Linked DNA regions of Homo sapiens. The protein of the gene in region 1 purifies or fractionates together with the protein of each later gene. This does not show direct contact. Each region holds a gene or a part of one and is shown in the gene's direction. Other genes may lie near its edges.

Region 1 (4,799 bases):
GAGTGCAGAGAGTTTGGGGAAAGAAGTGAGATGGAACTACAGACAGCATGTGACCAGGCATGTAGAACCATGTATGAGGTATCTAGATTTTTAATATTCACTTTGACAGTGAGGAGACACCACTGAAGGCTGGTTAGCAGGAAAGATACATGATCAGATCTGTATTTTGAAAAGATCATTCTATCTGACTATAAATGACATATGGGTGATAAGGAGGTATAAACAAAGCGGACGCTGAACACCAGTTAGGAATTAGGGAGCTAAAGTGGTCTTTGCAACAGGTAGCTTGACTAATAATGGTAGAGATGGAGAGATGTGGGATGTCTGAGAATATATAGGAAGTAAAATGGGCAGAATTTTGTAAAGAATTCAACATGGATAAGGAAGAGAAAGCTCTAAAGGCTGTTGCCTGAGCATTTGGCCACAATGCGATGTTGAGGGTGCCATTCGCTGCAGAAAAAAGCAGTGGAAGCCAACCAAGTTATGGGGGAAAAGCAAAAATTTCGTCTTGAACATATTGAGTTTGAGGTCCCTGTGAGTCATCCAAGGTGAAGGTCAAATAAGAGGTGGCTTCATAGGTCTGGAGCTCAGAACAGAGGTGGAAGCTGGAGATGTCAGTCTGGGCGTCAGGTTTGTATTGTTTGTATGGGTGGTGATTGAAGCTGTGGGCATAGGTAAGATCCCAAAGTGGAGACAGTGTGAGATGAGAGGAGGGCCTAGGACTAAGTCTGTGAGGATTCCAGACACTGAACCATGGTGTCTAAATGATACAGACGGGAATGGCCCTAGAAGCCAGCACCACAGCCTCATCACTACCAATACAGACCCCTCCTGCAGTTGCGTCACCCCGCTGGACTTCAATCATTGCCTCAAGAACCGGGAGGATAATGGCCTGCCCATGCTCAGCACCAATGCCATGAGCTGGAAGACGATTTCTGCAATGGAGAAAAGGGGAGCAAGAGAGACTCAGCAGCAAAGGAAGAGAGTGTTTAGAGGAAGAGGGGTCAACAGTGCCAAATGCTGTTGAGAAATGGAGATTCAAACAGGATGGGAGTGATGAAACCCAAGAAAGTGGTCTCCTTGTAGAGGACTGAAGCTAGGGCTGATACAGGGCCAAGACAGTCTTCCATATGCATAAGTTGTACTGTAATAGCCAGTTTACATGTCTGTCTCCCTGGAGTAAAGGTCTCCAAAGTGGAACTTGTCCACCCTGTTATCCTTAAAGTCTAGTGCAAGTCCTGGAACGTAGTGGACACTTAAATTTTACTGATTAGTGAATGGGTGAATGAATGAATGAATGAATGATGGCAAATGATTGGAAGCAGAGGAAGAATCTCTGGCATCTGCCTGGACTAGCTACTATCCTTCAGCTTTTTTTCTTTTTTACCGCAATGGCCCGCAGACCCAGGAAAGAGACGACAGAGCCCCCCTTCCCTCCCTCCCCTGGGCCCTGGCCCCCCTTCCTCTCTCTGACGAAGAGTCTGGACCGAAGGTTCTGCTGACGTGGGAAGGGGAGGAGAGTCTAGAGGAAGGGGAGGGGAAAGCAGCGCAGAGATCGCAGAGACCAAGGAGGCGCCCGCGGCTGCAGAGCTGCAGAGCGGGATCTCTTCGAGCTGTCTGTGTCCGGGCAGCCGGCGCGCAACTGAGCCAGAGGACAGCGCATCCTTTCGGCGCGGGCCGGCAGGGCCCCTGCGGTCGGCAAGCTGGCTCCCCGGGTGGCCACCGGGACCCCCGAGCCCAATGGCGGGGGCGGCGGCAAAATCGACAACACTGTAGAGATCACCCCCACCTCCAACGGAGTAAGTGCCCGAGCCCCAGGTGGCGACGCCATCCTCTCCCAGCACCCCCGCCCCCGCGGAGCGTCTGGCATTTTCCTCCTGCGCATCCCTCGCCCCTGACTGCCTTCCTAGCCCTCCCTCCCACCTGCCCCCTGCCCTTGCTCTGCGGTTTCCTCCGCTTCACCCTTCTCCTGCCACCCCCTGCCCCCCAACAGCAGGTCGGGACCCTCGGAGATGCGGTGCCCACGGAGCAGCTGCAGGGTGAGCGGGAGCGCGAGCGGGAGGGGGAGGGAGACGCGGGCGGCGACGGACTGGGCAGCAGCCTGTCGCTGGCCGTGCCCCCAGGCCCCCTCAGCTTTGAGGCGCTGCTCGCCCAGGTGGGGGCGCTGGGCGGCGGCCAGCAGCTGCAGCTCGGCCTCTGCTGCCTGCCGGTGCTCTTCGTGGCTCTGGGCATGGCCTCGGACCCCATCTTCACGCTGGCGCCCCCGCTGCATTGCCACTACGGGGCCTTCCCCCCTAATGCCTCTGGCTGGGAGCAGCCTCCCAATGCCAGCGGCGTCAGCGTCGCCAGCGCTGCCCTAGCAGCCAGCGCCGCCAGCCGTGTCGCCACCAGTACCGACCCCTCGTGCAGCGGCTTCGCCCCGCCGGACTTCAACCATTGCCTCAAGGATTGGGACTATAATGGCCTTCCTGTGCTCACCACCAACGCCATCGGCCAGGTGAGGCGGCCAGGCGGGCCGCGGGTCTGGGGGCGGGCAGAGAGCGGCGAGGGCGGGGCCTCACGCCCGCTGCACCCTTCTCACATCCCCAGTGGGATCTGGTGTGTGACCTGGGCTGGCAGGTGATCCTGGAGCAGATCCTCTTCATCTTGGGCTTTGCCTCCGGCTACCTGTTCCTGGGTTACCCCGCAGACAGGTGAGGGCTGTCGTGGGGGCAGGGCTGGTAGAAAGGAGGGGGTGCTAGGGAAGCTAACCCAAGCAGCGGGCGTTTACAGGAGGTCGAAGACGATTCGCTGGACTCTGCAGTCTTCTCTGGACTTCTATTCAATGGTCTATCCATGTCTCAACTTCACTCTCCATCAAGAAATACCCCTTCCCTACCTCTTCCGCGCAAGGGAATGACTCGACCTCTATGGACTATTAGTCCCATTCCCACTAATTAGTGGCCCCCTATCCGTGAATCAATGGCCTCATCTCCAAAGAGAATAGTCTCATCCCCACTAACAGCCCACATGGACTGTTCGCTCCATCTCAGTGACCTCATTCCTGAAGATCAATATGTTAATTCCTAAACACCAACAGCTCCATTCCCACTGATCAATAGTTCAACTTCACAAACAAATTACCCCATTTCTGACCAGCGACCCCTCCCCTACAAGTCAACTAACTATCTCCAAAGACAATATCCTCAGACCCAGTAACCCACAGTCCCATGCCTGCCACCAAATGACCCAACGCTCTGTAGGGGAATAGCCCATAGATTAGCAGTCATACCCTCATGGATCCTCAGGGCTTTGAGATCCTCTCACCGAAATCCCCGTTTCCATGAGTCGGTAGCTTCACCTCTAGAGATCAACAACCCAATCCCAGCAACCAATAACTCTTCCCACAGATCAAAAATCTCATCTCTGATTCTGGTCACCTTCACCACTGACCAGATGCTCTCACTGCACTAAACTTCCGATTAGACTCAGCCCCATTGATCCACAGTTCCATCCAAGTGGATTAATAACTCAACTTCTGTGGATCAAAGCCATCCCAACATTCAATAGTCCAGTTCCTTAAAATCAATACCCATCCTCACTGCCCAATAGTCACACACCTCTGTGGGCCAATGATCCGAAACCCACAGGTCAATAGCCCATCCCTATGCATCAGTGGCCTCATTGCCACAGACCAGTAGCCTCATTCCTATGGAACCATGGTTTCATCCCCAAAGATCAATAATTTGGTCTTCTAAAATCTGTAGCCTTCAGCACATTAACCAATAAGCCCATCCTCATGGAAAAATGCCCCACCCCATTAGATCAATAGCCTAACTCCCAGGGATTGGTGCCCCTTTTGCAATGACCAGAGGCTCCCTATCTTCATCTCCATAGATCAATGGTCTTATCCCCAAAGATCAATAGCCCAGCCTCCAAGAATCAGTAACCATGTCTTCACTAACTCATAGTTAGTGACCATAATCACTTACCAATAGTCTCATCTCCCCTGGTCTGTGACCTTATCCTTACTGATTATTCCCATGGATTAATAGATTCATCCCACTGATCAATAGTCCTACCTTATGGATTAATACACCCATGTCTATGTCCCCACTGATCTTTCTTTTTTCTTTCTTTTTTTTCTTTTTTCTTTCTTTTTGAGATGGAGTCTCGCTCTGTTGCCCAGGCTGGAGTGCAGTGGCATAATCTCAGCTCACTGCAACCTCTGCCTCCCAGGTTCAAGCGATTCTCCTGCCTCAGCCTCCCGAGTAGCTGAGACTACAGGCACCTGCCACCACACCTGGCTAATTTTTGTATTTTTAGTAAGGATGGGGTTTCACCATATTTGTCAGGCTGGTCTTGAACTCCTGACCTCGTGATCTGCCAGCCTCGGCCTCCCAAAGTGCTGGGATTACAGGTGTGAGCCACTGCGCCCAGCCTGACCATTCTTAATGTATTAATAGACCAATGTCCCACCTCCATGGAACAATGGCCTCATCTCCAAAAATCAATTACTCAGTCCCCTAATATCATTGGCTTTACCTTCACTGACCAGTAGTATCCTCATGCACAAGTGGCCAATGGCCTCCCCTCCACAGGTTAATAGTTCCAACTCCGTATATCAATGAACCCCCCTCCCACATCTCCTCTGAACAGTCTGAGCAAGATAAGCTCCAGGCCCACTGACCATTAGCTCTGTTCCTAAGGATGAATGGTCCCAAATCCCCTAAGCAATATCCCATCCCCTCTGTTGAGTGATGTCACATCCATTGACAAGTGCCCTAATCTCTGACCAATAGCCCAAGAGTCAATGTTCC
Region 2 (4,362 bases), on another chromosome or scaffold:
CAAATTTGAGGTGTTATGGATTTAGTGTGAATTTTGTTTTTGTGATGAATTGTATACTCCTGAACATGTAAAAAGTCCAGCCCTGTTTCTTTTTTTCCTGTTCTTTCTAAGAAAGGGAGTTTCGTGCTCCAACTTTGGCATCCCTAGAAAACTGCATGAAGCTTTCTCAGATGGCCGTTCAGGGACTTCAGCAATTTAAGTCTCCCCTTCTGCAGCTCCCTCATATTGAAGAGGACAATCTTAGACGGGTTTCTAATCATAAGAAGGTAATTCTTTGCTACTTTAAAGTCAGTTTTCAGCAGTTTGTCCTGTCACTTAAAGGTAACATGAATAAAAGTTTTCTGGAAATGGTTACTATGCATTTTTTAGATTTAGAATGTCTTAAATACTCTAAAACTTTCTCTCAGGTGGTTCTGTTAACATTTTCTTGACTAGGTAGCTGTGTTTTATAGTATTTTACTACTGTAAGTAGTTTTATTATTTTGGGGGTTGTTGCATTTAAAAAGTCAACAGTTAGTTCCTTATATTATGTTACCAAAAATAAATGTACTGTCTACTTTACAGTCATTTTATTCTTGGCTTAAGGTTGGGCAATTGTTTACTGGTTAAGCATGAACAACAAAAACATTTAATAAATCAAATAAAGACAGTTCTTATTTAGAATATATAATCTATAGTATAAACATGATAATGAATCTTAAGATATAACAAAAATTTGTGTAAATGAAAAACTTGAGGAAATATAAGAAACTGAAGTTACAATTCTAGTAGGAGATTTTAAACATTATTTTGTATATGATAGATAAAACTAGCAGAGAATAGACATTGGATTTGATAGTATATTAATGTAGAATTAATAAATGCATGTTGGAAATTAGTATCAGAGTTCTCTGTCCTTTTAAGTACTCATGTTCCCCTTATAAATTTGATTGTATGTTAAGTCATAATTAAAAACTTCAGAATCTAAAAGCAGAGATTTTACATGCCTCATGATCTAATCTGTGTCTTTGAAAGTGAAAAATAACTAGCACCAAACACCTGGAAAATTAAAGAACACGCTCCTAAGTAACCATTTTGCCAAGATGGATATTACTGTAGTAATAGCTATATTTTAAGAATAACAAAAATGAGAATATTGCATAGTAAAACTTTGAAGGTGCGTCTTTATTGAGGTTTATTTTTACTTTTATTAGGTAAAAGTAAACGTTTATTATTAAAGGTTTGTTAATAGTAAACCTATTAATTGCTAATTAAAGGTTTTTGTTATTAAAATTGAAAATAAACTGAGGACATCAATTGACAAAGTTCTTGGTTGAGTCAAGATTCTTATTTTTTCCCTCCAACTTTGTTTTTTCTAATTTAAAAAAATAAGCCTGTATTAACTTTATAATTTAAAAATTCTTAATTTAAATTTTCTTGGAGAAAAAGGTCATGAAATGCCATATCGTTATTTTGTACTTTGAAATGCACATTAATCAACACTTTTCTAAAAGTTGCTGGATTTTGTTGTGGTTAACATGTGAGTAATTTTCTTTTTATGAAAAGCTTTGTGAGTTAGGGAATTATGTATTTTCTTTTTTTTTTTTATTCAGTATAAAATTAAAACTATCCAGGATTTGGTGAGTTTAAAAGAATCAGATCGTCACACTCTACTGCACTTCCTTGAAGATGAAAAATATGAAGAGGTTATGGCTGTCCTTGGGAGTTTTCCATATGTGACCATGGATATAAAATCACAGGGTAAGTGGGAGGTTTCTCTGTTGAGCATTGCTTCCCTTTTGATAGATTGGTTCTCATTTATTTGACTCAGGATTCTCAAAACACTGTACTTAATAACATAACTTGTTATTAGACTTTGCAGAACTGTAGTTTACCTGTCAGATTTACTATGTTGGAAAATGATTTATACCTAATAGTTTGAGAACACTGATAGAGTCCTACTTTTATTATCCTCATAATGGGATGAAGTCTGAACACTCTGTTCTGTAGTTCAACTTTTAGCAATTTCTTAACTTTCCAAAGAATGATGAAGACTTCCAGGCATAATAAAAGAATGAGATATTTGAAGTATATTATTAGTATGAAAGAAATAGCTGCCTAGTTCTAAAATTAAATTTTTAAAACCCAACTTATTTATGTTAATTAAATGTTGAAAATTACTGTGTTTTATGCCACATTTCATGTGTTTTTCTTGCCCTACCTCTATATTTTCTTTGAGGGAAAAAAATAAAGGCTATTTTTCTACCTATATAATTGCTCTGTGTTTCTATTTCAATATCTGAATGGTCTTAGAATACTGAGAGAATTAGAGACTATCTGCTCCATTCTTTCATTGTGGTGGTGGTCTGAGCTTTAACATTTGCTAAGTTACTATTATGAGAACATTCTTTTAGTTACCAAGAATACAGGGATATATTAATAATGGTTTCTGTCTTTATTTTATTTATTTATAAATAATTTTTGAGACAGGGTCTCACTCTGTCGTCCAGGCTGGAGTGCAGTGGTGCGATTTTGGCTCACTGCGTCCTCTGCCTCCCGGGCTCAAGCAATCCTTCTACCTCAGCCTCCTGAGTAGCTGGGACTACAGGTGCACACTACCATACCTGGCTAATTTTATTTTTTGTAATTTTAGTAGAGACAGCGTTTCACCATGTTGCCCAGGCTGGTCACGAGCTTCTGGGCTCAACTGCTCCACCTGCCTTGGCCTCCCGCAGTGCTGTGATTATAGGTGTGAGCCACCGTGCCTGGTTTGTGTCTTTAAAGAGAGCTTATTGTCTAGTTGAAGCAATAGGCTTAAAAATAAGATAAGGGCTGGGCCCAGTGGTGTCATGCCTTTAATCCCAACACTTTGGGAGGCCAAGGCAGGGGGATCACTTGAACCCAGGAGTTCGAGACCAGCCTGGGCAACATAGTGAGACCCTGTCTTTATAAAATTAAAAAAAAAACACACACACACCAAGATAACATATGCTAAGTGTTAACGTGAATGACACAGACATTGTACCATTTATTTATACAGCAAATATTGAATGCTGTGCACTCCTCTAGGTGCTAGGGAAGCAGTGGTAAGACATACCCTCTGCTTATTGAGCTTGTATTCTAATAGGAATTCTAATTGGGAAAGGAAGGCAAACAGTGCAATCTGGTTTCAGTTTGGCTGGAGTGTAGCATATGTGTTGTGAAAACTTGGTTTGCTTTGGTGAGGAGTTGGGGTTGCCTTGTGGGGCCATGAGTTTTCAGACTTTAAAAATACTAATTTAAAAGCTGTATTTAGGACTGTGCTGATTTAATAAAACTGTCCAAATAAAAATTTTGGGACTTAGAGATACTTTGTGATATTAAGAACTGTTAAAAGTATACCCTTTTCTTTTCTTTTCTTTTCTTTTTTTTTTTGAGACAGTCTTGCTCTGTTGCCCAGGCTGAAGTGCAGTGGCACTATCTGGGCTTACTGCAACCTCCAACTCTAGGTTCAAGTGATTCTCCTGCCTCAGCCCTCCCAAGTAGCTGGGATTACAGGCGTGTGCCACCACCATGCCCAGCTAATTTTTGTATTTTTAGTAGAGACGGAGTTTCACCATGTTGGCCAGGCTGGTCTCGAACTCCCAGCCTCAGGTGATTCACCCACCTCAGCCTCCCAGAGTGCTGGGATTATAGGCGTGAGCCACCATGCCTGGCCAAAAGTACATGCTTCTTAGAAAAATGAATATTAGAAGAGATTTTCTTATAGAAAGTAGAAATTTAAGAGTGTTCGGCCTCACTGACAAATATTACCATGGATCCACTCCATAGCATCTTGGATAGACAGTTTATTTATATTTTTACAGTGCTGCCTAATTATGTAATAATAGTGCTATAGTTGGTGAAGGAGGAGTAGAAGAAATATAGAAGCAGGAAAGGGGCATCTGCATGATAATAATGCTGGAGATGGTGGATCTCCTTCCCTACCTTGCTAGAATCTGTAATAGAATCTCCTGTAGTCCTTTTCTTCACTTTAAAGCACCAAACAGCAGGTCAGCATTCATGTAGTTATTTCACATGACCTGCTTGTGCACATACAGCTGTGCAAAATGAAAAATGTAGATGAATATGTGGCCCAGATTTGATTTTTGATAATGGAGACTTCCAGGGTGAAGAAGGGATACCATACCCTTTGTTGATACCCAGCTGCTGCACCTTGTAGCGGGTAATGGAGATAGCAATTGCAGATTATTGGAGGCCATTCTTTTCAACTGATGGTATGTTAGTAAATGCCAGACCAGTATGAAAAGTAAACATAACAAACTTAAAACTGTAGGTAAAAACATGTAAGAAGAACTATCTTACATATAAAATCTGTAGAAAAAATGAATTAATGATCACATT
Region 3 (2,211 bases), on another chromosome or scaffold:
CCCGGCCACGTGAGAGCCACTCTCACCCCGCCTGTGTTTTCAGTTAGCGTTTTCTCCAGAAGCATGATACCAAGCATATTCCCCGGCTCCTGTAGGCCCCAGTGTTCCAGCGCTTCCAGGCAGTAGAGGGAACCTCAGTGGTACCCACAGGTCTTCCCACCCCAGGCGCTAGAGCACAGACACTCTTCCCAGGCCTGTGCTTTGATGTATCTGTGGCCACTCAGAAAGCTTCAGTCATCTGCCTCCAACTTTCTCAGAATTCCACGTGAAAGGCGTCCCTTCCATGTATTAACCATGTCTTCTATGCTCTGTATACCTCTTCATGCGTTTGAAATGCACATGTTTCTCAGTACTCTGCACCATCTCTGTTCATACCACTGTGCATGTGGCTGGCCTTCTCTCTTGATGCTGTTACAAGCCGCCCGTTTTCACTGTTAGATGCTGACTTCTTCATGTTTGACCCGTAGTGACTACTGTGAAGACTGGCCAGAGGCACAGAGGATCTCAGCCTCGCTCCTGGACAGCCGGTCCTACGAGACGCTCGTGGATTTCGATAACCACCTGGATGACATTCGGAATGACTGGACAAACCCAGAGATCAATAAAGCTGTCCTACACTTGTGCTAGGCAGGCACCGCTGTGACTGGGCTCCGGGCCTTTCCACTACGTTGAAGAAGAAAACCTATTTTTAAATGTAAATAAAATATCTTGTAGCCTGTGTGGAAAGCTGACCGTTTTAAGAAGTGGCATGTGCCTTGAAAGGGGGCAGAATGTTCAGTCGGTCGTGTTTTTAACACAGAGTCTCTAGAAGAGGTGCAGACATCCCGTCTGACTGTCCCTGTGGACTCTCTCAGTTGTATGTTGCTATAATCCTCCAAATCAAAGCTCTTTCTGCTTGTGCAAGATTGTTCCTATTAAACAGTTTTAACTAACCTTTTATAATCTGGAGAGAATACTTTTTAAGGCTTTTGAACTATCTTTTTTTAAAAAAAAAAAAAAAAGCCCACATCTTATACTCCAATGAGTGTGTTTGTGAGTTTTTATCCTGTTTGAATTTTGATGTCGTCCAGGCGTCCTGGGATCAGGGTAGACACGTGGAGTGCTGGTGCTGAGCTGTTTGAGAAGCTCTGTGTGGGTGTTTCTGTGGTCAGGTAGGCTGGGCTGTGAACAGCACTGCTCCACATGGTGTCGGCTCACAGAGCCACCGCAACTCTGCCCAGCGGGAGTGACACCACTGATGCCACAGAAGCCTTTATCGTTAGGGGCAAAAGCAGACATCTCTGGTAGCAGGAGCTCAGTGTGGTGCTCTTCAGCCACGCAGAAAGCTCACGTGCCTGCAGGGCCAGGAAAGGGAAATGATCGTTTCTTTTGTATTAGGAAAAACAAGACTTAGACTTCCCGAGTTGTGCAGAGTGACGTCTGTACTTTTTATACTTAGAACATTTGGTCAAGTTTTGTAACCAAACCTTAGGGAATTGAGAGGGAAACTTTATGGTACGTTTACCTTTTTTCCTTTTTATATGAATTATTTTGTACAAAGTTCAGAGAGCGGTACCTTTCCTACTGTCTTTTCTTTGACTCCATGGAGGAATTTGTAACGATCGGTGTGACCTGAAAGGGTTTGTGATACAGCGGTCACTATTTTCTCTTAACACATAGGAAAAAAGTTCAGACATCGCTACAATAAATGTGCTTTATTTGATCCACCAAATTCTCTCTTCCCCTTTCTTCAAATACCTCTTACTCTTGATTTTTTAAACTGGCGTTCTTTCACGTGGGGAGCACAGGAAAGCGTGAGGTGTCTGTGCAGCCCCTTCTCTCCCCTGCCCTTGGATGCCAAAGCATCACAGCTGGAGCGAGGTGGGCAGTCTTGTTCCGAATGGGCTTGGGTTTGTTTCATAAAGGGAGAAGAATCACCTCCAGCATTTGCACGTAAGAAGCTGTTTTGTCCTGAGACTGAAACAGCAGCGTAGGCCCCTCCAGTTAGAAGTCCAGGGCAGCTGGCAGAGCTACTTGGAATGAAGGTTGGTGAAGGCTCGTTTGGGAGGCATTTTAACGACACAGCCCTCCTAAAACCCTTCAAGGTGGCTTTCCCTCTGCCACCTCCCTGTGGAATTCTTTTCCTTGGTTCTCCTCCTGCCTCCCAGGAGCATGTGCTGTCCTAAAACCCTTCAGGGTGGTTTTCCCTCTGTGTCACCTCCCCGTGGTATT
Region 4 (4,362 bases), on another chromosome or scaffold:
CTAAACACTGTGCTGAGCACTGGGGATCCAGTGGTGAGTTAGAGCAGCAGGCCTTTGGGGAAGGCAGCCACTAAATAACTACAAATTACTAAGAAAATTGCAAGACTGAGAAATGCATCAAGGAGAGTCCCAGGGCGTTTTTGGGAACTGTAATGGGAGACCTCCCACCCTGGTCTGAGGGTCAGGGAATGTGTCCTTACAGAGGTGACATTTAGGGTGAGATCTGAATGAGGAGGATGAAGGATTTGGCAGGAGGAAGCTTCCCAGCAGAGAAACAGCCCTCAGGAAGGCTCTAAGGCAGGTGGGGATAGGAGGAGTGTAAATGATCAGGGACTAGAGGGATCTGATGGCCACAGGTGAGAGTGCAGACAGAGGCCACATTGGGGCCTGGTAGCTCTGCTACAGAATGCAGATGCATTCACAGGGTAGGGGAAGCCACTGAAAGAGTTTTAGCAGGGGAGTGACATGATCAGATATGCCTTTTATCTTTCAGTTTCACTTGTATTGCTGTGAAGGTCAGGGTCTGGAGGGGGGATAGCAGGCTGACCAGGGAGACCAGTTTAGGTGGCTACAGTAGTTGCCCAGACAAGAATTGGCTGTGGCCTTTGCTGAGAAGTGTTAGTTGGGATGGGGAAAGTAGATGGATTGTGAATGTGTTTAGCAGGTGAAATTTTTTTTTTTCTTTTTGAGAAGGAGTCTTGCTCTTGTCACCCAGGCTGGAGTGCAGTGGCACCATCTTGGCTCACTGCAACCTCCACCTCCTGGGTTCAAATGATTCTCCTGCCTCAGCCTCCCGAGTAGCTGGGATTACAGGCATGCGCCACCATGCCTGGCTAATTTTTTTTTTTTTTTTTGAGATGGAGTTTTGCTCTTGTTGCTCAGGCTGGAGCAATGGTGCGATCTTGGCTCATTGCAACCTCTGCCTCCCGGGTTCAAGCGATTCTCTTGTCTCAGCTTCCTGAGTAGCTGGGATTACAGGCACCCGTCACTACACCCCGGCTAATTTTTGGTATTTTTAGTAGAGATGGGGTTTCGCCATGTTGGCCAGGCTGGTCTCGAACTCCTGACCTCAGGTGATCTGCCCGCCTTGACCTCCCAAAGTGCTGGGATTACAGGCGTGAGCCACTGCGCCTGGCCTAATTTTTGTATTTTTTAGTAGAGATGGGGTTTCACCATGTTGGCCAGGCTGGTCTTGAATTCCTGACCTCAAGTAATCTGCCTGCCTTGGCCTCCCAAAGTGTTAGGATTACAGGTATGAACCAGCAAGCCCAGTGTGCAGGTTAATTAATAGAACTTAGTTATTGTGCCTTTCCATCTCTTTGAATTGTAAACACCACTCATCATAATCATCATCATCACCACAGCCATTTATGGAGTGTTTAACCTGTGGCAGGGACCATACACATCTTTTCTCATTTAATCTTCACAGTAGCCTCATAATTTTCTACATTTTGGTGGTATTGTCTCCATTTGCTAAATGAGCACACAGTATTGCCTATGGAAAGTATGGATTGCTGTCCCTCCAACCCTTGACTGTTTTTGGTCCCTCCTCATTTGCCTTTCCTGCCAGAAGCCATTGTGAAAACACCTGCAGCTGGTAAAGAGCCTTCTGAGAAAAGCTGGAAGGGTGTGAAGGTGCTGACCTAGGCTAGGGCTCCCTGGCAGAATTGGCATGGTGCCCTCACACTTGTCCTTCAGACAACTTCTTTGCTGCCAGTGATGCAATAATTATCACTTTATGTATAGCTCAAACTGCAGTCTCTTAAAAGGCACATTACCAGTCGGGTGCAGTGGCTCACGCCTGTAATCCCAGCACACTGGGAGGCCGAGGTGGCTGGATCATTTGAGGCCAGAAGTTTGAGACCAGCCTGGCCAACATGGTGAAACCCCATCTCTACTAAAAATAAAAAAAGTAGCCAGGTGTGGTGGTGCGCATCTGTAATCCCAGCTATTTGGGAGGCTAAGGCAGGAGAATTGCTTGAACCCAGGAGATGGAGGCTGCAGTGAGCTGAGATCGTGCCACTGCACTCCAGCCCGGACAACAGAGCAAGACTCTGTCTCAAAGAAAATAAAAAATAAAAGCACATTACCAAGGGAGGGTTCAATGACTGTCACATAGTATGACATTTTTATTTTCGTGTGGAATAATTCAGTGTTTCTTTTCTTCCTAATTCCTAAATGAAAACGTTGGTACCTGAAGGCATAAGATTTTTTTGTTCCTAATCTGTACTGTGTACTTAAATATTTTTACAATGTGCAGGGGGATGGAGGGGACAACACTCTTGAACTTAAAATACCAGCTCCATGCACCACTTACATTCCCTTTTGATTTTGTGCAGGGGCTATCTGAGGGTCATCAGAGAGAACCAGATTAAAATTTGTGCCCTGATTTTTTTATCCTGAGGTTCTTCGTTTTGGCATTCTTCATTTACTTGTGGAATCTAGAATGTTGATTAGGTAGCAAGAGCAAATCTCTGAAGAACTGTGGTGTTTGGGAGTTGGGTTGGACCCCAAACCTGGCATCCTTTCTTTTCCAGACTCTTAGCCTCTCTGGCTTCATTTCCTGCTTTGTCTTGTGGCTGACACAGAAAACATGTGTGTTTGTTTTTTCTTCTGATCATACAGGCAATACACACTCATTAACCAAAGGCTATAGAAATAAAAGGCTATAGAAATACCGCCAATGTGATCCCGCCCCTCCACCAATTTGGCAAAGCTCCCTTCCCAGGCACCCAGCCGCTTCTCTGGATTGTAGTCACAGAAGTGCTTGACCTTCTGCTAAAGACTCACTTTGCTGCCCAAGCCTTAAACTCTGTCCTATGTAACCTCCATTGCCACCTCTCCCTTCTTACCTGCCTTTTTTTTTTTTTTTTTGGATACAGAGCCTTGCTCTGTCACCCAGGCTGGAGTGCAGTGGCGTGATTCTCGGCTCACTGCAGCCTCTGCCTCCCAGGTTCAAGTGATTCTCCTGCCTCAGCCTCCCAAGTAGCTGGGATTACCGGTGCATGCCGCCACATCTGGCTAATTTTTGTATTTTTAGTACAGACGGGATTTCAACATGTTGGCCAAGCTGGTCTCGAACTCCTGACCTCAAGGGATCCGCCCTCCTTGGCCTCCCAAAGTACTGGGATTACAGGTGTGAGCCACGCGCCCAGCCCCTTCTTACCTGCTTTCTCATCAGCTTTGTGTATCCTCAGATTGCTCCTATGTTCCAAATAGCAAAATAGAAACCTCCCTTAGTCTTCCTTGCCTGTAGCGAATCTACCCTACCTTCCTCGCCCCCTTTATAGCTAGATTTTTGGAAAGAATTGTGTATATTTATCCATGTAGTTACCATTTTGGTTTCTCTATTTCTTTATGTGGATCCATATTTCCATCTGTTAACATTTTTCTTCTGCCTGAAGGAGTTCCTTGAAGATTTTTGTCATGTGGGTTCGCTGGTAATGAATTCTTTTATCTTTTGTATGTCTGAAGAAGTGAAGAAGTATTTATTTCACTTATTATTTTTTTTTTTTTTGAGATGGAGTCTCGCTCTGTAGCCCAGGCTGGAGTGCAGTGGCACTATCTCAGGTCACTGCAACCTCCACCTCCTGGGTTCAAGCGATTCTCTTGCCTCGGCCTCCCGAGCAGCTGGGATTACGGGCGCCCGCTACCATGCCAGGCTAATTTTTTTTTTTGTATTTTTAGTAGATACAGGGTTTCACCATGTTGGCTAGGCTGTTCTGGAACTCCTGACCTCAAGTCATCCACCTGCCTCGGTCTCCCTAAGTGCTGGGAGTACAGGCGTGAGCCACCATGCCCAGCCAAAATCATTTTTTTCTTTTTTTTTGAGATGGAGTCGCACTCTTGCTTGCTTTGTTTCCAGTGAGAAACCTGTTGTTATCCTTTGTTCCTCTCTACATGATGTTTTGTTTTTTTTCCTCTGGCTGCTTTAAAGATTTTTTTCTTTGTCACTGGTTTTGAGCAATTTGATTGTGATGTGCTTTGTTGTAGTTCATTGAGTTTGGGTTTTGTTGAGCTTCTTAGATCTATGGATTTATAGTTTTCACCAAGTTTGGAAAGTTTTTGGCTATAATTTCTTCAAATATTTTTCTGTTCCTCCACTCTCTTCTCTTGCCAGTACTCCAGTTACTGTACATTAGACCACTTGAAATTGTCCTACGGCCCACTGATGCTCTTAATTTCTTTCCATTCTTTTTTTTTTTCCTGTGTGTTTCATTTTGGATAGGTTCTTTTTATTTATTTATTTATTTATTTATTTATTTTTTTATTGATCATTCTTGGGTGTTTCTCGCAGAGGGGGATTTGGCAGGGTCACAGGACAATAGTGGAGGGAAGGTCAGCAGATAAACAAGTGAACAA
Region 5 (3,797 bases), on another chromosome or scaffold:
GCCTGCGCCAGGAGAAGAAGTGCCAGGGTACCAAGAACAGCTGTGGGCCCGGGCCTCCAGCAGGTGGCCTGGCCCTCTGAGACCACCATCCTTACATCTAAGAGGGACCTGTGGACTGCCCTGTAGACGTACAGTAGGGCAGGAACGTGATGGGATGCCACAGTGGGCCTGGTGGTTTTGGTAACTCATCTTCCCATTGATGGCAGATGGAGCCAGCCTCTTCCAGCACTTCCTGGATTCCTACCAGGTCATGTTCTTCACGCTCTTCGCCCTGTTGGCTGGGACAGCGGTCATGATCATAGGTGAGGAGGCTGCCTGTATCTCTGGGTCTGTTCCCCTGCCCCGACCTGCTCTAACCAACCCTGTGCTCTTGCAGCCTACCACACTGTCTGCACGCCCCGGGATCTTGCTGTGCCTGCAGCCCTCACGCCTCGAGCCAGCCCTGGACACAGCCCCCACTGTGAGTAGCCCCCCTGCAGGCACAACCAGGCAGAGCTGCTGAGAAAGAGAAGAGCCCTGGGGGAGGGGTCGAGGCTCCTGAACCCTAAGTCTCAACAGGCCCTTGCCTGGGCCAAAGGAGCCTGAGGCCCAGAGGACAGATGTGGGAGCCAGGAGGGTCGGGGCAGAGGGGCTGCCAGTCCTGGTTCAGCAAGAGCTTTCCCCAGGTAGAGCCATGCTGGGTGGAGGTATGGGCAGCAAGGAGCTCTGTCTAGGCAGGAGTGCATGCTAGGACTGGATGCCCAATTGCTGAGGCTGCCTCAGAAGGCTCTAAGCTGGGGTTGGACGAGCTGACTCACAGATGGGGATTCTGGGTAGTTCTGATGAGAAATTTCCCAGAAGAATGGGCAAAGTCATTTATTTCAATGGTCTAACTGTCTCTCTGGTGACCCCGAAGCCCTGGTGACCCTGCACAGCTCCAGGGAGCACCTCACTGTGTGAATGTAGTTTCTCTCTCAAACAATGCAGTGCCCAGCCTGTACTGCTGTACGTGAAGGCCCTTTAATGTCTCCTGATTCCCATTTGAGGGTTCTCTCCCCTACACAAAGAGTCCTCGAGCTCGTGTCTGCTGACATGGGGGCCCATGGACCGGCTTCAGGGGGGTCCCTGAATTTTTTTGAAAGAAGACCCAGTTGTGTGGGTAGAAGCACTTTCCTGGGTAAGGAGAGCCCACACGCCCTTGTCTTCTGCCTGACGACTTCTCTACCTGCAAAGCGGCACCCAGGGGAGGCCACGGGTGCTCGGCCTCCTCGCGGCTCTGCTGCCTTCTGCAGCTGCTCTGGCAGCAGGTGCCTGCCCTTTCTAGCTGCCTCTCTCAGCGTGCTCCTCCCTGGGTTTTGGGAGCCACACCTGGATCTCTGCAAGGTCTCCGGAGCACTGCAGAATCGCTGCTCCCCTCGGGGTCTTTGTTCCTGTGGCGCTCTTGCCCGAGGCTGCATTGCATTCAGATGCACGGGGCCTCCCTGCCTCATGCCCCCTGGACAGATGCTGCTGTGGTCCTGAAACTTGAGACACGTTCTCCCCGGAAGGCTCTGCGCTCCTGGGTGTTAGGGTGGCATCCCAGGCCTCTCTGTGTGAATGAGGCCAGCTCAGCAGGTGCCCGTGGACTTCCCTCTGCTGGCCGGGGAGGCCTCGGGGCATCACTGTGAGAGTGTCCTGGGTGAGGCAGGCGCCTGCTGAATGCTGGCTGTAACTGAAGAGTGCGCCGCTTTCCCTGGCTCTGCTGCTAACATCGTCTCTCTTCCCACCCTAGATTTCGCTGCCTCATCACCCACATCTCCCAATGCATTGCCTCCTGCTCGCAAAGCCAGCCCTCCCTCAGGGCTGTGGAGCCCAGCCTATGCCTCCCACTAGGCCGCGTGAAGGTTCCCGGAGGATGGGTCTCAGCCGAGCCTCGTGCACCCCCAAGATGGAACATCCCTGCTGCATTCACACTGGAACAAGCCCCTCCAGATGAGTGCCCCGGCCCCAGGCCAGCTTCACTGCCGTCTCTTCACACAGAGCTGTAGTTTCGGCTCTGCCCATTAGCTCATTTTATGTAGGAGTTTTAAATGTGTGTTTTTTTCCTTTCAAGTCTTACAAAGCTAAGACTTTTTGGCTCATTCCTTTTTGCATGGTTGTCTAGGGTTTCTGGACAATGTGCTGTTGCATTTTTATTTTCCTAGCCTTGCTAAAATCTTTCCCTTCTCAAGACTTTGAGCAGTTAGAAGTGCTCTTTAGAAGTTGTCTGTGGGTGATGTTACTGTAGTGGTCTCAGGGAAAGGATTGTCCAGTTACTTTAGGGGGTTTTTGGTGGGGTTTTTCCCCCTGTGAAAACTTACTTTGCCCCTAGTCTGGCTGCTGCTAGGACTTCTGAGGAGCAATGGGACATGAGTGTCCCTGTATCTGCGCCACTGCCGCAAGGGAAGCCTCAGGAACCAGCACCTGGAGGCCAGGATAGCCAAGCCCTGGGTGAGCGAGAGGCTGGAGAACACAGGAGCTCACCCAGGGCTGCTGCCCAACCATGGGCCACTGTGAACAGACTTCAGTCCTCTGTTTTTGTTTCATAAGCCGTTGAGACATCTGATGGACTTGGCTTAGGCCCTGCTGGGACATCCCACGTGTGATCCCTTTCACTCCATCAGGACACCAGGACTGTCCTTAGGAAAATGTCCTTGAGATGGCAGCAGGAGTCATATTTTCTGTGTGTGTGTTTCGGAAAGCCGCTGTGTCCTGCCTCAGCACAAAGACCCAGTGTCATTTGCTCCTCCTGTTCCTGTGCCACTCCAGAACCTCAGCAGATCTGAGCCACCGCCTGCCAGTGTGAGAGGCGGCCACTTTCATGGCAGCTCATCAGGCGCAGGGCCCCAGACAGCTTCCCAGCAGGCCCTAGAGCCCGGCCTGGGCCAATGATGGAGGGCGGCCGCCAGCCCAGGGCCTGCCCATCCAGAAGGGACTCCCCAGGGCCTGGGGGAGGAGACCCTTGGAAAAGTCCTCTCTTCCCAGCTCCTGATTCTGGATCTGAGATTCTCAGATCACAGGCCCCTGTGCTCCAGGCCGAGGCTGGGCTACCCTCAGGGAGATCCAGAGACTCATGCCCATGGCCATCCATGCGTGGACGCTGTGTGGAGAGTCCAGGATGACGGGATCCCGCACAAGCTCCCTTCAGTCCTTCAGGGCTGGGCCATGTGGTTGATTTTTCTAAAGCTGGAGAAAGGAAGAATTGTGCCTTGCATATTACTTGAGCTTAAACTGACAACCTGGATGTAAATAGGAGCCTTTCTACTGGTTTATTTAATAAAGTTCTATGTGATTTTTTAAGAGGGTGTGATCGTTGCTGAGATTTCTGTCTGATGGTGATGATTTCTTCCCTTTACCCATCTATGATACTCTGGGGCCTGGCAGAGCTGGAGGTCTGAGCTTTATTCTCCCCAAAGGGTGAGCATCATTTTCAAGCACATTCAGGTTGGCAAATGCAAGTGCATCTGGACGCAGCCAGATCTTGCCAGCAAGTGAGTGTGCCCAAGAAGGCACATTGACAAAACCAGGTGATGCCACACAGTTCAGCTTTCTGCTCCCAAGCTAACCAAGCAACTCTCTGTCTCTAATGGTTGCCAGAAAAGGCTTTTAGCACCATTTAGCACTAAAAATATAGTACATCATATAGATTGTTTTTTCTCTAGAATTCTTAAGTCTGGCCAAAAGTGAACTCTCGTTCTCTGTTTCTCTGTGTGTCTTTGTGCATGCTTACATGTGCATTCCTGCATCCTGGAAATGTTTTTTTGTTTTGTTTTGTTTTGTTTTTGTTTTTCGTTTGTTTT
Region 6 (4,362 bases), on another chromosome or scaffold:
GGAATACTTTGGCTTAAAGAATTGCCTTAGATACTGTTAGCATATTTAATGTTAAAGTAACAAGTTTTAATTTTAAAAAAATGTATATATAGTCAATAATGGATATGCTACCCTTCCCATGATACATTATTCATAAAGTAACTTTATGAGTGTAATTGCTAAACAGGAACACTATACAACCCTATTCTCTAAATTATTAATTTCTACACTTTGAAAAAAAGTTAAGAGTAATAGCCTTTTGCCTCCAAAAAAAAAAATTCAGAAACCAAGGATAGTTGTCTCTTGATATCCATGAGGTCTTGGTTCCAGGATCCCCAGAAATACCAAAGTCATTGGATGCTCAAGTCCCTATATAAAATAGCATAGTATTTGCATATAATCTATGCACGTCCTCTCATATACTTTAAATCATCTCTAGCTTACTTATAATACCTAATACAATGTAACTGCTGTGCAAATGGTTGTTATACTGTTATTGTTTAAGGAATAATGACAAGAAAAAAGTCTGTACATGTTCAGTACAATGCAATTTTTTAAAAATATTTTTGAATATTTCAAAATAGAAAATATTATATTTTGGTTGGTGGAATCCATGGATGTGAAACCAACAGATATAGAGGGCTGACTATATATTACTCAAAAAAAAAAATTGGCCTGGCATGGTGGCTCATGTTTGTAATCCCAGCACTTTGGGAGGCTGAGGTGGGAGGATCGTTTGAGCCCAGGAGTTTGAGACCAGCCTGGGCAACATAGTGACACCTCATCACTATGGAAAAAAAAAAAAAGCCCAGAAGTTTGAGGCTGAAGTGAGCTATAATCACACCACTGCACTCCAGCCTGGGCAACAGAGTGAGACCCGTCTCAAAAAAAAAAACTTACAGAAAATTGTAATTTTGCCTGTAGTTATCAGGATAGCAATTAGCAGGGTAGCAATAAATCTAAAACTTTGGACAAATATCATCAGTTTCTTCCACCAATGCCTTGGCCATGCCAAAGAAGCAGAAGTGTTGGATTATATAGATGGAGGGGGAGCAGCAGAAGGAGGAAAGGACAGAGGTGACTCCAAGCTGGCTGTACCAACCATGAGGAATGGAAGAAAGTTTGGGACAGGTACCATCACTGAGCACCTACTACATGCTAATCTCCTGGTTCTATACTTTTTATCTCATTTAAACCTTATAATGAGCCTATGAAGGAGGATATCAGTATCTCTTTTTTTTTTGAGACGGAGTCTCGCTCTGTCACGCAGGCTGGAATGCAGTGGCACAATCTTGGCTCACTGTAACCTCCGCTTCCTGGGTTCAAGGGATTCTCCTGACTCAGCCTCCCAAGTAGCTGGGACTACAGGCGTGCACCACCACACCCAGCTAATTGTTGTATTTCTAGTAGAGACGGGGTTTTGCCATATTGGCCAGGCTGGTCTCAGACTCCTGACCTCAAGTGATCCGTCCACCTCGGCCTCCCAAAGTGCTGGGATTACAGACGTGAGCTACCATGCTCGGCCAGTGTCTCTGTTTTATAGATGAGAAGATGGAGGCTTAGAGTTGGTAAATCTGTGGTACCTCTGGGTTCCGTAGTTTGACCCTCTGCATCAGTAGTCCATTGCTTTATTGTTTTTTAATCATTTACACATCTAGGCATGAGTAAGGGTGAGTGGGCTAATGGTTGGCTGGGGAGGAGCTGAATGCGAGTAGGAAGTTATCCAGAAGCAAAACTGCCACATTGAGGTGATGCATGGTACAGACTGCATGCGTGACTGCGCCTGACACTGTTCTGCTTCAGTGAACAGGTATATTTTAGCATTAAACTGGTTGAAATAAAGGTAAAGATCATTGAAAATATATTTTTAAAATAAATGTTTTAGACCATATTCCATGAGAAATCCAGAATTGGATGCCAAAGAAGCAATCTCTAATTATACATGACCTCCTTCCAGGGACTCTTTATACCAAGGTTATGTTCTACATCATTTCAGACTCTTGCCTCTTTATGTTTAAAGCAGGATATATAAATCTGCAGCAAATTCATAAGGTAACAACATTCTTTTGGACAAGGCATAGCCTTTGACAATATTTTAAGAACACAAGTGACAGCTTGAGTATGTGGGACCTATTAAAATGTATAGCTTTGACTTTTCTGTCTTCCAGAGCTGAAAAGGGTGTTATGATATTAATTAAATGAGTCATATTCTTCTCTTTTTTAATTAGATTCTCTCTAGGAATAATTCATCACCATAGAAGTGTATTGAGTGTGTCATCCAGTAAAAGTCTAAAATTTTACTTTACGTTTTTAATTTTGCTCTACTATTATTTTCTGCGGTTTTGGCTATGACAATGCTTTGTCACTTGGAATAGTTTAAGTTTTGCTTACTAATGGCTTGATATACACTGAAAATAGCAGTGTTTCCCAGTTTGACTTTTCAGAATGAGCTATAGCAGGGGGAAGTGGTTACTTGTTGAGTTGGATCTGGAGCCTTCCTCTGATACATTTTACTAAGTGTTTCTTAGACTGCTTAAGAATTTTACTTTGCTTGGTGAAACCATTTGACTTTACTTTTTCCCTTAGGAAAACTATGTTTTTCTCCCAATAATTAAGTTTTATCGTAGGTACTTTTTGTTTGTTATCCACATTAGCAAAAGAAATAACTCCTCCCACCCAAAGAATGGCAGATTGGTGTGACGTGGTTATGCAATAAACTAACAGTAAATTATTTTGTGTAATTCTTTGCTGTATTACCTTCTCTATCTTTGTTTTTATTCCTTTAAGAGGTAACTAGAGAGCCAGTAGATACTACACGCAATATTTCCTCTACTTTGAATTTTAAAGATTGTGTATTATATTGCAGTTCCTGAAATAATTTCATATTAACTGAAAATAGCATTGGACAATACTTTCCTATGGCTGAATTTTTTTTTTTATGTTTTCAACCTTGTGGTGTCTTCCCACAATTAGGAAAGTATTCCGTATGAATACAGCTGAAAGTGCTGTGGTTTCCTCCCTGTTCTTCAGCCTTGCCCTCCTCTGTTTCAGGATCTGTGTTTTCTAACCTAGCTGCCCTCAAGACTCTCTCTTTGGTTCATTCTCCTAAAAAGCCCCTTCCTACCCTTCTTCTACAGAGTTCTATATGTTAAATCTTCATTTGTATGATTGCATAATTTTTGATCCACTCAGTCGTCAGCCTGATGGTTTGGTTGATGGGTTGGTTTTGTTGGTATTTTTGTGTTTTTTTTTGTCATCCAGAAATGCTTTGGAGTCTCCATCTCGTTTCCTTAAGTCATGCTGTTTTCATTATGACTAGCTGAGATTTTTTTCCCCCACTAATACTCATAGCAAGGATTAAATGGTTAAGGAAGGAATGATTTTTAAACTCAGCAGTCAACAATTTGGAGTTTCCTTATTTGTAGAGAAATCAGAATATGTGGTATAATTCATTCAAACACATTCCTGCTAGAATAAATCCATTAAGTTGTAGATTTTTTTTTATTCCAATGTGCTTGGTGTATCGTTAATAGTCATTTGCTTCCCAGTGAATTGTTTTTCTTTCCAGAACCTATGTCAGAGGAAATTTACTAGAAGTTACCAAAAGTGATTATGTAAAGAATACTGTCATACAAAGTCTCTTAAAGTGAACATTGAAAAATCAGTCCATATAAAACACTGATTTAGGTCTTAGGGGCTTTCAAGGAATTAAACCTAGCCCTTACTATCGAGAACTTTAAAATCTCCAAAGCTGGCCGGGTGTGGTAGCTCACACCTGTAATCCCAGCACTTTGGGAGGCCAAGGCAGGAGGATGGCATGAGTCCAGGAATTTGAGACCAGCCTGGACAACATGGCAAAAAATGTTAAACATGTGGCATTGAGGCCGGGCGTGGTGGCTCACGCCTGTATTCCCAACACTTTTGGAGGCCGAGACAGGTGGATCATTTGAGGTCAGGAGTTTGAGACCAGCCCAGCCAACATGGTGAAACCCCATCTCTACTAAAAATACAAAAATTAGCCGGGTGATAGTGGCGCAGGCCTGTAATCCCAGCTACTCGGGAGGCTGAGGCAAGAGAATCGCTTGAGCCTGGGAGGCAGAGGTTGCAGTGCGCCAAGATTGTACCACTGCATTCCAGTCTGGGCAACAGAGTGAGACCCTGTCTCAAAAAAAACAAAAAAACAAAAAAAACAGTGGCCTTGAAATCTTTATCCAGGTAAAAAGCAATCGTAATAATAACGAAAAATGTTCTAATTTGAAAGTCAGGCACAAGTGCAGTTTGAAACCTGATTGTTACTAAATGAATTTAGTCTATCCTAAAAGCTATTTCTCATGTCTACCTGTGTTATCAGAAGAAACAACAGCATTCTAGCATCCTGATATC
Region 7 (4,362 bases), on another chromosome or scaffold:
AGATTTGAGGTTGAAATTGGGTTTAATGACTTGGGAACAAATAATTAAAACTTGAAGGCAGGAGGAATGGGGGTGAGATACAGCCAGTGTGCCTATGATAACCCAATAGAAGTTAAGAAAATAGATTCAACAGATTTGGGAGCCATGGGGATATGGGATAACGTTACAAATTTAAGTATGAAATTGGGGTCAGTGGGACTCCCAAATAGTGTTGACTAAACTGGATAAGGACAGCAAAAGAGCAGTTGTGGCGATTTGGAGTGGAGGAATAAAGGAATACCACCTGTATTTAAGAGAACACAGATCAAGACAAAACTTAATTCAGAACAACCTTGGAGCTTTTAACCCAGAAGGGAAAAGGTCTAGAAGGGAAGTACTCACTGCCTGGGTCAGCTGACTCACCCCTTTCCTCCTTTGCTCCACTGGGTCAAAATTTTTTTCTTTTAAAGACAGTCCCCATCATAGAGGAGTTTTTAAATTTACAATCATTAATCTGTTAGGCATCTCAGAATCAGATCCATAGGAGATAGCCTGAACTTTGAAAAGCACTTGCTTGATAAAGGCAAAAGGGGACAGGGTTGATCCCAAAAAGCACTGGAAGCATACCTAATCCAGTTTACAAGGTAGCGCTTTCTAACTTGCCACTTCTACTGCCTCCCACAGCTGCAGGCCAAATCCTCTCCCACATGTCAGAGGAATCGCTCTGGTCCATGGGCCCAGCTGGCCTGCTTAGAGGGCACAGGGCTGGTATCCTGGCCCCTTGCCAAGGGAGGAAGGAGCCTTCTCACTCCCCACCTAGGTGCTGGTCTCCTTGACACCTTGCCTCCTCCCTGGCAGCAGGGGCTCTCACCCCTCGACAGAGACTTCCTGCTCCTCACATGGATATGGATGGTCCTTCACCCACCCGCGGGTTTAATAAATATTTCAGGCTGGGCGCAGTGGCTCATGCCTGTAATCCCAGCACTTTGGGAGGCCGAGGCGGGTGGATCACCTGAGGTCGGGAGTTCGAGACCAGCCTGACCAACATGGAGAAACCCCGTCTCTACTAAAAATACAAAAAATTTGCCGGGTATGGTGGCGGGTGCTTGTATTCCCAGCTACTTGGGAGGCTGGGGTAGGAGAATCACTTGAACCCGGGAGGTGGAGGAGGTGGAGGTTGCGGTGAGCTGAGAGCACGCCATTGCACTCCATCCTGGGCAACAAGAGTGAAACTCCATCTCAAAAAAAAAAATAAATAAATAAATATTTCAGATATAAGAAGCATCTGTACAGCAAGAACTATCATAGCCCTACAGAAATGAGGGGGTCGTTTTGTCACAGGGATGTAGGGTGATTGAGGTGAGAACGCAGCTAAGGATATGTTTGAGGAGTAGCTGGAATTTGAGGTAACAGTTTGCTAAGCCTGGGAATGGGAGGAATAGACATGGAGGTGTCTGCAGTAGATTTGGTAAGAAATTTGAGTTTGGGGTGCACTTTGGAATAGATGACTTAATGGCTGACCTGTCTGAGGTTTGGGTATGATGTATTTTCTTATTGCCACATTTGGAATTGAGGTTGGAATGAAGTTTTTCATCTGGAGATGAGAATAACTGAGATTTGTTCTGAGATGGGAGTAGGGTTTGCAGTACATACAAATGGAGGTTTCTCTACTGGGAATATTTGGGATTTGAATGTAAGAATGTTGGGGTGTGGGTGTGACTTGGATTGTGGTTGGACAGTGTCTGGGACCAGGCATTTCTGTTGATTGGGAGTTTACGTGCTGCCAATGGTTAGAGACACTGACGAGCTTTCTGGTATGCTTTGATGGGGAAAACATGAACAAGAGCCACATTAGAATTTGTGGGAGAAGAGTTAAGCAAAGGGGGCAAGAGGTGTGAGGAGAGGTGGTGAGGCTGAATCACCACGAGACTCTGAGCGTCCCTTTGTCTTTGTTAATTCTGAAGGTGGGTCATGAGCCGATGCCCCCCACCCTTGGGACCAATGTGCTGGGGAGGAAGGTCCTCTATCTGCCGAGCTTCTTCACCTACGGTGAGTGTGCCTCCCAAGCAGGAAAGCCCACACCAACAGAAAAGAGGCCTCAGGTGGGGAGCAGGACCAGCTGGCCCCGGGGAACTCACTGCGCAGCATGGCACGCAGTCGAGCTGGCATGGAGGAGGGGATCTAAGCGTGTACAGAGAGGACATGGTGTCGGGGTGCGAGCAGGTGAACCATACAGCTTTGGTCCAGCTCCTCTGCCTGTAGCTGCCAGCTGCCAGCCCAGACAGCAGGAGGGGACAGACACAGGTGCCTGAGAGAGGAGCCAATCTAGGACACTGGTCCCTATTATTTCTGCTGCCCCGGGTTGTGCCTGGAACATGCGTGGGGGTGATTTCCTTTTGTCCTGTGAGCAGCCTGGCCCTGCTACTCCAGCAGGAGGCCCGGGGGGTCCTCTTGAGTTTTTTTCTTTTATCCCACCTGGGTGTCTTGTTTCCCCTGCATTCCTCAGGCAGTGAGTGGTGCTCACTCACTCTGGTGTCTCCATCTGTTGGTTACAGAATGGTGTGCAGTGAATTGCAGCTTCACTTCTGTGTGCTGCGTGAGTTTGGGTGGGCCACTTACCTGCTGTGGCCTGGCTGCACCCCTTGTCTGCAAAGTAAGGTCAGCTTCTCCTGCCCAGGCCTTCCTGCAAGCTCCCCAACTGTCATCAAGAAGCCCACCTTGCTGCCTCTGCTGCCCATCACCTGGCCCACAGGTGCCGTCTGGCCAGGGCCTTTTCATGTTCACCCTCACTGTCCCTCTCCCAGTCCCTACCCTCACCAGATGACCATGATGAAGGCCTTCTTTAAATGTGCCCTTTTTCTCCGTGTTCACAGCTGGAGTTCCATTGCAGGCAAATCCCCTCCAGTTTCCTGCACCTCTGCTCTTACCTGTTTGGTTGTCTAGAATATTCTCCAGAATCTATCTTTCTGTTGAGTAACTTGGGGCTTGGCCTCTGTCTTACCTTTTCCATTTCACATGCTGTTGGCAGAATTGGGTGTCATATTTCTCTTCCAGTTTTGTCCCTGTGTTGTTGAGTGCAGAGTCTAGGGCCAGGTGGAATGTGTCATCTTGTGAGGAAATGTGTTTGTGTTGTTTTTTACTTAAAAATTGTCAGCGTAGTGGAGAGGGGAATGACAGAAGTAGGAAGGCACCCCACCATTGTGTAGTGAGGCAGTATACAGAGAGGTAAGGCAGCCGGGGCAGATGGCTGCGGCCCTGCACGGGGCTTTTTCTGGATCTGGTTGCACGTGCTGTGTTCTGAGAGGCGAGGTTAGAGCCCAGATCATCTCTATTCATGTGACACAGCCATTCCCAAAAGGACTTAGAGCAGAGGGAACTTGACCCCCATCTTAACTGTCTCTTTTGAGGATGAGCAGAGTTCTCAGGTGTGCCCCCAGCCTGGTTTATATAAATGTAGCTTTAATCTAGGTGTGAGCAGATGTCTGTTGGGGATCTCTGGACACCAGGCCTACTCTGGAGTCAGAGAGGGGACCCGCCATTTGGCTCTCTGGTACAGTGTGGACAGTGTCTGCTCCTCTACTTGTCATGGCTGAAAGTACTGCAGCTGTCATGACATTCTCTGGTGTAGAAGAAAGAACTTCCCAGAGGGTTTCCTGGCACTGCAGAAAGACCCAGAATGAGGGAGGCCCTGGGACCCACAGAGGCCCCTGCAGGCATTTCAGCACGCCTCCCTCCGCTCTCACTTGTTCCTCAGTTCTCTCAGAAATGGAGAGAAATGACGGTCCTTATTCCTTCTTTTTTTACAGGTGGGCAGATGGAAGAGGGTCGATGTTTTGCTCAGGATCACAAACAGAGGTCCTGAGGCTCCCTCTCCTCACTAGGATCCACCCTCCCCCAAAGCAAATTTTCCTTTTGCCTGTTCACTCTGTGAAGAGGGCTCCTTGCCAAGTCACCCAGCATCCCCTCCCCTCCTCCTCCTCTCCTTCCAGCCCACCCTCATCTCAGGCAATCACATATACAGGTAACAGGTGTTCTCAGCCTCATGAAAAACCCATGCTAGCTGTGACATTGAATTGCTGGGCTGGCAGACATCTGCGGAGGAGCAAAAGGCATATTTGCTTCTTCCTGCCTCTGCGCGGTGCCAGAGAGCTAAAGTCATGGTCTAACAGGGGGAGCATGCTGTCTGAGAGAATGTTCTGCTAGCTTCCAGATGCACAGGTTTATAAAAATACCACCCTGCCATTTAAAACATGTTTAAAATGTTGATAGAAAACAATGAATCGTATCCTTAGAAAGACAGACCCTAGTGAAAGAAACACTAACTCACACAGGTAGGGTCTAGCTTCCATAACATTTAAGTTTATTCTATGGAATTGTTCATTG

What was found.
Region 2: the proteins of SLC22A17 (region 1) and SEC63 purify together in Homo sapiens (affinity purification with mass spectrometry; one large-scale study listed by BioGRID and IntAct). This does not show direct contact.
Region 3: the proteins of SLC22A17 (region 1) and EMC8 purify together in Homo sapiens (affinity purification with mass spectrometry; one large-scale study listed by BioGRID and IntAct). This does not show direct contact.
Region 4: the proteins of SLC22A17 (region 1) and TXNDC15 purify together in Homo sapiens (affinity purification with mass spectrometry; one large-scale study listed by BioGRID and IntAct). This does not show direct contact.
Region 5: the proteins of SLC22A17 (region 1) and NUP210 purify together in Homo sapiens (affinity purification with mass spectrometry; one large-scale study listed by BioGRID and IntAct). This does not show direct contact.
Region 6: the proteins of SLC22A17 (region 1) and DNAJC16 purify together in Homo sapiens (affinity purification with mass spectrometry; one large-scale study listed by BioGRID and IntAct). This does not show direct contact.
Region 7: the proteins of SLC22A17 (region 1) and MTCH1 purify together in Homo sapiens (affinity purification with mass spectrometry; one large-scale study listed by BioGRID and IntAct). This does not show direct contact.

Annotation. Positions count from the first base shown.
Region 1 is NC_000014.9:23,349,646-23,354,444, reverse strand, and holds the start of SLC22A17 (solute carrier family 22 member 17), read left to right. Parts: upstream 1-1,557; 5' UTR 1,558-1,703; coding exon 1,704-1,799; intron 1,800-1,993; coding exon 1,994-2,497; intron 2,498-2,589; coding exon 2,590-2,693; intron 2,694-4,799. UniProt on the Homo sapiens protein: Cell surface receptor for LCN2 (24p3) that plays a key role in iron homeostasis and transport.
Region 2 is NC_000006.12:107,898,748-107,903,109, reverse strand, and holds part of SEC63 (translocation protein SEC63 homolog), read left to right. Parts: intron 1-111; coding exon 112-266; intron 267-1,592; coding exon 1,593-1,740; intron 1,741-4,362. UniProt on the Homo sapiens protein: Mediates cotranslational and post-translational transport of certain precursor polypeptides across endoplasmic reticulum (ER). Proposed to play an auxiliary role in recognition of precursors with short and apolar signal peptides.
Region 3 is NC_000016.10:85,778,124-85,780,334, reverse strand, and holds the end of EMC8 (ER membrane protein complex subunit 8), read left to right. Parts: intron 1-467; coding exon 468-627; 3' UTR 628-1,711; downstream 1,712-2,211. UniProt on the Homo sapiens protein: Part of the endoplasmic reticulum membrane protein complex (EMC) that enables the energy-independent insertion into endoplasmic reticulum membranes of newly synthesized membrane proteins.
Region 4 is NC_000005.10:134,876,938-134,881,299, forward strand, and holds part of TXNDC15 (thioredoxin domain-containing protein 15 isoform 1 precursor), read left to right. Parts: intron 1-4,362. UniProt on the Homo sapiens protein: Acts as a positive regulator of ciliary hedgehog signaling. Involved in ciliogenesis.
Region 5 is NC_000003.12:13,315,735-13,319,531, reverse strand, and holds the end of NUP210 (nuclear pore membrane glycoprotein 210 precursor), read left to right. Parts: intron 1-206; coding exon 207-302; intron 303-376; coding exon 377-460; intron 461-1,750; coding exon 1,751-1,851; 3' UTR 1,852-3,297; downstream 3,298-3,797. UniProt on the Homo sapiens protein: Nucleoporin essential for nuclear pore assembly and fusion, nuclear pore spacing, as well as structural integrity.
Region 6 is NC_000001.11:15,529,484-15,533,845, forward strand, and holds part of DNAJC16 (dnaJ homolog subfamily C member 16 isoform 1 precursor), read left to right. Parts: intron 1-4,362. UniProt on the Homo sapiens protein: Plays an important role in regulating the size of autophagosomes during the formation process.
Region 7 is NC_000006.12:36,979,254-36,983,615, reverse strand, and holds part of MTCH1 (mitochondrial carrier homolog 1), read left to right. Parts: intron 1-1,943; coding exon 1,944-2,028; intron 2,029-4,362.